Linked DNA regions of Homo sapiens. The protein of the gene in region 1 purifies or fractionates together with the protein of each later gene. This does not show direct contact. Each region holds a gene or a part of one and is shown in the gene's direction. Other genes may lie near its edges.

What was found. The genes of interacting proteins can lie anywhere in the genome.
Region 2: the proteins of DCTD (region 1) and PITPNB fractionate together in Homo sapiens (co-fractionation; one large-scale study listed by BioGRID). This does not show direct contact.

The regions. Positions count from the first base shown.
Region 1 is NC_000004.12:182,914,522-182,918,963, reverse strand, and holds the start of DCTD (deoxycytidylate deaminase), read left to right. Parts: upstream 1-1,577; 5' UTR 1,578-1,650; coding exon of another isoform or gene 1,651-1,676; exon of another isoform or gene 1,677-2,265; coding exon of another isoform or gene 2,266-2,291; intron 2,292-2,424; exon of another isoform or gene 2,425-2,678; intron 2,679-3,075; exon of another isoform or gene 3,076-3,083; intron 3,084-3,388; coding exon of another isoform or gene 3,389-3,395; coding exon 3,396-3,503; intron 3,504-3,905; coding exon 3,906-4,041; intron 4,042-4,442. UniProt on the Homo sapiens protein: Catalyzes the deamination of dCMP to dUMP, providing the nucleoside monophosphate substrate for the thymidylate synthase/TYMS.
Region 2 is NC_000022.11:27,912,757-27,916,256, reverse strand, and holds part of PITPNB (phosphatidylinositol transfer protein beta isoform), read left to right. Parts: intron 1-1,909; coding exon 1,910-1,940; intron 1,941-3,500. UniProt on the Homo sapiens protein: Catalyzes the transfer of phosphatidylinositol and phosphatidylcholine between membranes. Also catalyzes the transfer of sphingomyelin.

The DNA.
Region 1 (4,442 bases):
GTGGTTGAAGGAGCAGCAGCAATTGGTGATGTATGGGTTGTAGGTTGGTAAGAAGAGAAATGGATCTATGAAGACCCAAAGACTGTAGATGAGTGTGACAAAGACCAAGCGGTGGATTTGGGAGGAGGAGGGAAACCAGGGGCTCGGGATATATGACACATTTTAGCGGCAACAAGACAGCCATGTAAAGTCAACTTGAAATTAAAAATCATCATCTTAATCTATGTGGCTCTTTCAAGCCTGAGTCTTATCAAGGCAAAAAAAAAAAAAAAAAAATCTATAGTTAACGATGAAGTATTTCTCCCTTTTGCTTTCCCGGCATCCACCAAGAGCAGTACATAATTTAATTATTGAATCTACAAGCTGGACCATGAGATGAAGAATGATGTGTCTGCTGTAGTGAGAAATTAGATAGAACCAACTGTTTACTCTCATCATTCTTCCTCCGTTAGGCTAAATTAATATAGTTAACAAGCTTTTGTTTGGAATAGCAGTTCAAATCTGGGATGTGCAGATCAGAACTGGCGATTATTACAGTAGCTGTTATTTATGGAGTGCTGACAGTCCCCTCAAGTCCCATGAATGAAACAGAAAGGGGTTCTTCTGTCATTCTCTGTGCTAGAACCACTGTAAGGGGCTAGACGTCTGCACAGGGTAACGAAGTTCATGAAAACCAGATTAAGTTGCTTGGGGCATACGACTCCAGAAATGTCACTGATGGTCTTTCCTATTGCCCTGTTTTTCTCATCTTTGAAACAACTGCAACAAAATGTGCACTATATAAGTGGGCGAGCATTACCAGGAGGTAACATGCAGGTGGGGTGCCTGTGCGGTGATACGGGTCGAGCAGGGCGCGGCAGGCTTTAGCAAACACCTCAGGCCCTTCCGCACAATTTGAGCAGAAACTGAAAGCCTGTCAGGCGCAGCCAAATGCAAATCTAGCTTCGAGGCACTGAGCCTCGAGGCACAGCGCCCCCGCCGGACCCAGTTCCCTGCCCCATCCAGTGTGTGAAACTGTGACCCAGCCACCGGCCAAGGGTCCCCACGGGGACGCTGCGACACAGCGGGCTCACTCCAGAGACCCAAACCAGGTCTCCCCACCTCCCGCCCCGCCAGTTTCACGGCACTAGATTCTTGGGGTCGTCTTTTAATCACAATCTCCATAGCCGTGTCTCTAAGCAGTTGATGGAACACGGATGGTGGGGAAAACCTCACCACCGCCACCACCACCAAACCAAGCAGCCCCCGACGGTCGTGCAGTCAGGCCCGGGAGCGCCCAACTCGCGGCCACCCAGCGCCACGCGTGACCCGGGCAGCGGGGCGACCTCGGGGCGGTCTGGCACCCGGGAAGTAGTTTGTGCTCGGGCTCTGAACACCGCCGGCCGGACCGCGGGCTGCGTCACGGGGACCGGGAGGCGTACGGCGACGCGGAGCAGCGCCTTTGCGGCGTGCGACCCGCCCCCGCCGTCCCTCCCTCCCTCCCCTCAGGGCTTCGGGCCCCCGGGGCCAGCCGCCGTCCTGCGAACGCGCGGCGCCCGGGCCGCTGCCCCCTTCCGGCCCCGCGGCGGCCCCGCCTCCTCCCCCGACTTCCTTCCCTGAGCACGGCGGCGGCGGGGACGAGCACCGGCCTGCGCGCGGAGCCGGCACCGGATGGTGGGCGGGGGCCAGCCGTGCGGGTACGCGGCCCGCGCGCCCCTAGCCACCGCCGCGTGGCACCGTCCCGAGCGCGTGGCGCGGGGCGCTGGCTGCCGGGCGGGGGCCTGGGGCCGCGGACGCTGGGGGCGCCTCGGCCGCGCTCAGCCTTTAGATCGGAGAATGCGGGCGGGGTGGGGGCGCTCGGGGTCCCCGCAGTCACTCCAGGGTCGATTTCTCGGCGGGCGCCGCGGCCTGTGCGAGGCCGGGCCCCTTGGAGTGCCCCGGGAGGTGGTGCTGGGCGTCTGAACACCACATCCCTTCCTGCGCCCGTGTGTGGGTTGGGAATGCCGGGTGTAGGCCCTGGATCAGAGCTGACGGGGTTGCGAGCGGCGTGGGGTGTGCCTGGGACGGTGACCGGATGTGTCTTCCTGAATCGTTGTATTCGAGCTCCAGTTCTCTCTGTTTCTACAGCTGGGCCTCAGTCCTCACAGGGCTCTAGTGGGCGTTCAGCCACACCAGGAGAAGGCGCCCAGGGGATTAACAGGACCCTTCCCTCTCCTGCTCTTCCCTCGCCCCCCATGGCTCCCCCTCCCTCCTATTTAGTAGGTACTTCTCCAGCACCCCACAGCGATGATGGATGCTGGCCCTAAAGCCAGGTGGGAAACCAGGCTGATTCAGCACCTGTCTTTTCCTGTTAGGGGGGTTGCCAGGCCTCTCAGATGTGGGGCAGCGTAATCAGTGGGTGACCGTGGTTCCCAGCACCCACTCTCCACTGCATCCTTGTCTTAGGCACTGCCGCCCTGCACTGTAGCAGATGCCTAAATAAAGTGTGGAGCCTGAAGCAGAAGTTTTGGGAGATGCTTGCCTTCCTTTAGACCACATTCCTCGCCTTTCTCAAGATTTCTCCGTGGTACCCACCCCGTTTTTGTGTTGTCTTCCTTCCTTGCCCTTGTTTCATTCCTTTTGAAAGCGACCACTCCCCTGAAGTCCTAGGACCCCCTTCGTGGGCTCTCCCTGCCGTAGACAGTCTCTGCTTGCCCCTGGTAAACTACGTTCCAAAAACCTTGCTTTAGGAGTAGCACTTGACGTTTTTCATAGTTTCTTCTCATGTAATTCATTACTCGGAGTTGATAACTTCTGTCCCATCTGGATTATTGAGGAGAAAGGGAAGGGAAAAATTATCTGGTTAATATCAGAGTTGGGAAGGCTTCAGATGTTTTCTTTGAATCCGTCTGGCATGGATGATAATCCTGTGTGGTTTAGGTTAAGTTACCTAAGTTCTCTGAGTCTGTGTAAGATGGGATGGCACTGTCTACCTTAGCTAGGAGTAAGGCTTGAGTGACATGATGTGTATAAACTTTAACAATGTCTGGAATCTATAGATGATCAATAAATATTTCTTTTTTCCACCCTCCTCCTGTGCTGACTCCGCTTTGTAAGGGAGACAGGTAAAGGACACAACAATTTGTAGGCTGGCATAAAAAATCCTATGAGAAAGCAGTAAATAGATGAAATATTTGGGAACGTGAAGCTATAGGTTTCAAATTCAAACTTCTGAAATAGGAAATTTCTTAAGTTTTTACTTAAGACCAGAGACTGTTTAGGGCCCATGTGCTGTGATTTCTGATTGATAAATGTAGCTGAAGTTGCCCATGTTTAGAGATTTAAAGGTTCAGTGTGGTTGGGTTGAACTGGAAAACAGACTTACTAAAATGCTTCTCTCAACTTCTGTTTTGTCATGTTTTTCTTCTAGACCCAACATGAGTGAAGTTTCCTGCAAGAAACGGGACGACTATTTGGAATGGCCAGAGTATTTTATGGCTGTGGCCTTCTTATCAGCACAGAGAAGCAAAGATCCAAATTCCCAGGTAAATGAATTTCACGGGAGAATGCTTAGATACTCACAGGCAAAGAGATTACTGCACATGAGCAGAAAGGGGAGACTCAGTGGACGCCTGTCAACTTAAAAGTGCAGGGTCGGTCTGCCTTTTGTGCTGCGTTTCTACAAGCTTAGTTCTTCCTGTGAGACAGAAAATTGTCACATGCCATTGTTAACTGCCTCTTGTGCCCCTTCTGGGACTGGGGGTGCACTTTCCTTGGCTTGTGGGTGCTGCCACAAAAAACCAGGCAAGGAGACCGACAGCTCTCAGCACCTGCAGCAGCTATGCGTCTGTTTTGAGTTCTGCAGTCCCCCTGGTTTTATTCCCTGCTTCCACAGCGGCAGACCAGCCAGTTGCAGGCACCAAGCCTTTGGGCATGTTTCCTTCTAGGTCGGCGCCTGCATCGTGAATTCAGAAAACAAGATTGTCGGGATTGGGTACAATGGGATGCCAAATGGGTGCAGTGATGACGTGTTGCCTTGGAGAAGGACAGCAGAGAATAAGCTGGACACCAAATACCCGTACGGTAGGGCAAGTTTTATGTCCCATTCTGCTTAGTGACATAGCCTGGTGAGTGCCTAATTAAGAAAGTTGGTCAGAAGGCATCATCTCCCTTTTGTCATCAACAACTGGAAAGAAAAGTATCCTACTGAACTACCCCAATTTCCTGGCCTTGTCTCTTAAGTTCCAAAGAGAGCCACGGAGAGAAGCATGGTAGTGGCCACACAGGCTGGCCCTGAGATCCAGGGCTCTGCTGCCTGTGCTGAGCCTGGCAGGCTTCACTGGCAACCTGCTGGCCTGCACCACACCAGTGCACTGATAGTCGGCGTCTCTGCAGAGGGTCACAGCCCCTTGCAGAGATAGCTGAGGGATGTGCATGGTGTCTCTGTGGGTTCCTTTTTTTACTACTTGGAAGCAGGGTCGGCT
Region 2 (3,500 bases), on another chromosome or scaffold:
GCAAATCTTGAAGAAGTTACTTGACTCATTGTTCTGAATGTCTTAATCAGTCACTTTAATTTTTTGAAAGAATTTCCTTGAAAGTGTTCTTAAATAAAAATAGGGATCTTCCTGTTAGTGAGTGTAAAATTACTCAGCAGTGATTCTTTGGTTTTGTGAAACTTAAGGGAAGACTAACTCTTCTTTCTCTATCCCTTCCTTCCATTCCCTCTGCAGTCCATCATCTTGGTTCAGGCCTTTGTGACAGTTCTTGCCTAGCCTCCCAAAAGATAGCTTTCCCCACTTCTCCTGCTTGTCAGTGTTTTCAACCACCTGCAGATGACTTCTTCAGGTCAGCAGTAGTTGTCACTTACCTCTTGGACCAACCTTTTGGGATTCCTTATTGCCTGATGAATTTAATGGATTTCTTACCATAGTATTCCAGGTCCTGATAATCTGCTCCCAACCTATAGCTTTCTAGTCTTCCTCTCCCTCATTTTATGCTCTGGGACAGTGAGCAAGTTAGTGTATACTGAGAAGAGAAATGATTCGGAATTTTTAGGTATAGAAGGACTTACAAAAAGTTTATTCTTGATGGAGAGTAGAAATTAGTGACCATTGTGGATTTGAGAGTGTTCATTGTTTTTGAATCACCGTTACCAGAAAGACAAAGAGTGGCGAGTAACTCAGTAGTCAAAGGGGAGGGAGTAACAGACTTGTGCATGTTGGAGATTGAGGTAATGTGAACATTCAGACATAGATGTTTGAGGAGAGTAGGGAGAAAGGAGTAGATGGAAAGTGTAGCTGGAATGCAAACTAGATATAATCTGGGTTTTATTACTCTCTTCATACTTACGAATAAGAAAGACTATTAAAAAAGAATGCCTAGGCCAAAAAGATTGTCACTAATACAAACAATAAGCTAAATGACTCTTACTGCAAGAAAAAAAGAAAAAGAAATTATAAGCTGAAAAGAAATTGGAATGAGGAAAACTATTGAAAATTTTCCATAAAATGACAGATAAGATTAGGAAAGTATGAGAAGGATCGTATACCCCCATCCCACAAAAAAGGAAGTTGCTGTCTTGGAACCAACTATAATTATGAGACCATTGATATACAGGGATGTTCTTGGTTTTCAGGATTTATGGTGGAAATAAATTAAGGACTCTCCTTATAAAATCTAGAGATAAGATGCAATATTTTGATAAAACAATATACCATGATACTGTTTTGGATTTTATCTTTTAAGACTGCTTGCAATGGAGCTATAATGACATCTTTTTGGTATATACAATAAGAAACTCTTGGACAGGATGAAACACATGTCAACCTTATATTGTATATATGCTGGAAGGGATTATTATAAGGTTCAAGTAGTTTCCATAGTAAAATTTTTCTTACTAATTCTACACGACTCCTTATTTTTCTCTTAGTAAACTTGAGGAATAATTGAATAGTGGGGGAACAGTTTCTGGAAGCGTTTATTCAATGAGATTCAAGACACGTATTCTGTAAGAAGCATCATAAAAACAAAATGCACAGTATATAGGTGGAGAATGAAACCATACTAAAAATTTAGTCAGGGCAACCTGACCAGACAATCTGCAAATAATACGTTCTGTACCCTGCAATTTTCAATGTTGAGTTTTCTCTTTTTTCTTTACTCACAAGAATCTCTGCAGCTGCTGTTTGGGGTCCTGGGAACACTAAATGCAAATGATCATTGAGACCCAGGAATGATAGTTTTAGTTCCCCAATTATGGTGTAGGCATTGCAAAGACCCTCTTCCATAAATGACACCCTTGTATTTTTTTGATTTAAGAGACCTGTCTCTGTTATCATTGGATTTAAGGTAAAACCTCTTCAGAGATCTGTGTTTAAAGCTATTTCATATGTAATATATATATTTTTTCTTTTGTCTTTTTAGCCGTGTGGTTTTGCCATGTTCTGTTCAGGAGGTGAGTTTTTCTTGCTTCTGCATCATTTTATTGGTATATGTACTGTACTTTGATATGTTACTCTAAACTCACATTTTCGTAGTATTGATTTACCTTTTCATTCCACCTTATGTGACAAAATTAATTATATGAATGATAATTGCAAAGAATTGCAAAATGAATTAAATGAATGATAATGAATTTCTTGCTACACTGCCTTGTTTTGGAAGAGTCTAAAGAATGTAGTTTAACCTCCTGTCTAGTGCAGGAATTCTTTCTCCAACATCCCAGAGAAATGAGGCTCCAGCCTCAACTTAAGTACTTTAAGGTTAAGTAGCTTGCTGCTTAGAGAAGCAGCCTACTTTACTGTTGGACATTTTAAACATTTGTGTTTGAACCAAAATCTGCTTTTCCTATAATGCTTGACTCTTGTTTACAGTTTATCCCATTTGAGCAATGGGAAATAAGCCTGTTCTGTCTTGTAGTGGTTAATCCTTCAGGTTTTCTGATGGCAGCTCTCCCCTCCAGCCAACCCCATCCCCCACAAGCACTTTTATTTCATCTTAGAAAGTCTCAAGGTTAAACATTCCCAGCACATTCACTTGGCTTAATACAGCATGATATGTGGACTTGCTACCAGCTGGTCCTGTTACTATATGTGTTGTAATTGTTGATCTGAACTGAAAACAGTATTCCAGACATGGTATGAACAGCACACAACTGTAAGAGCTTATTGTTTTCCTCAGTCTGGACATGATACAGAAATATATCACCTATTCAGAACTTGCATGTCCTGCAGTTATAGCCATGTGTATTGTAGACAAGAATGAAGATAAGAGCAGAAACAGCTTCTGAGAAATCAAGATATATATAGCAAAACCCATAAAACCCTCTAGGCTCTTCTGTAACTTGCACACAGTTCCCATTTGCTCAGTTATCTGGTTTTCCTAGAGCTGACAGTAGATTAGAAGCAGTGACTTGGAAGTGGGACAAAACAAACTGATAACCTAAGAAGTGACAGCTGACAGAAGACAGAAAGAAATGCAGGAAGTGAAAAAGAGTAGCTGTCTGGCACTGTTTAGTGTAGACTTGAACACAGTTGTTTATATCTCAGGAGGATTCACTGTATTAAAACACTCCAGAGAAGCTAGGCACCCTGTTCTCTATTTGCACAATTGATTGTTTGAAGTTGAATGTGGAAATTGACACTTGTTTCTGTTAGACTTTTTCTTTTGATTTCAGCTGGTTGAATCAGCTTGTCGAAATCTTTTTGAGTCTTGGTATTGTCACTGAAAATACTGTTCTCGGCTTTTTGTTATACTCCCCCCCCCACCTTTTTTTTTTTTTTTTTTTTGGAGATGGAGTCTTGCTCTATCGCCCAGGCTGGAGTACAGTATTGCGATCTCAGCTCTCTGCAACCTCCGCCTCCTGGGTTCAAGCAATTCTCCGTGCCTCAGCCTCCCTAGTAGCTGGGATTACAGGCACCCGCCACCGCACCTGGCTAATTTTTGTATATTTATTAGAGACCGGGTTTCACCATATTGGTCAGGCTGGTCTCGAACTCCTGACCTCAAGTGATCC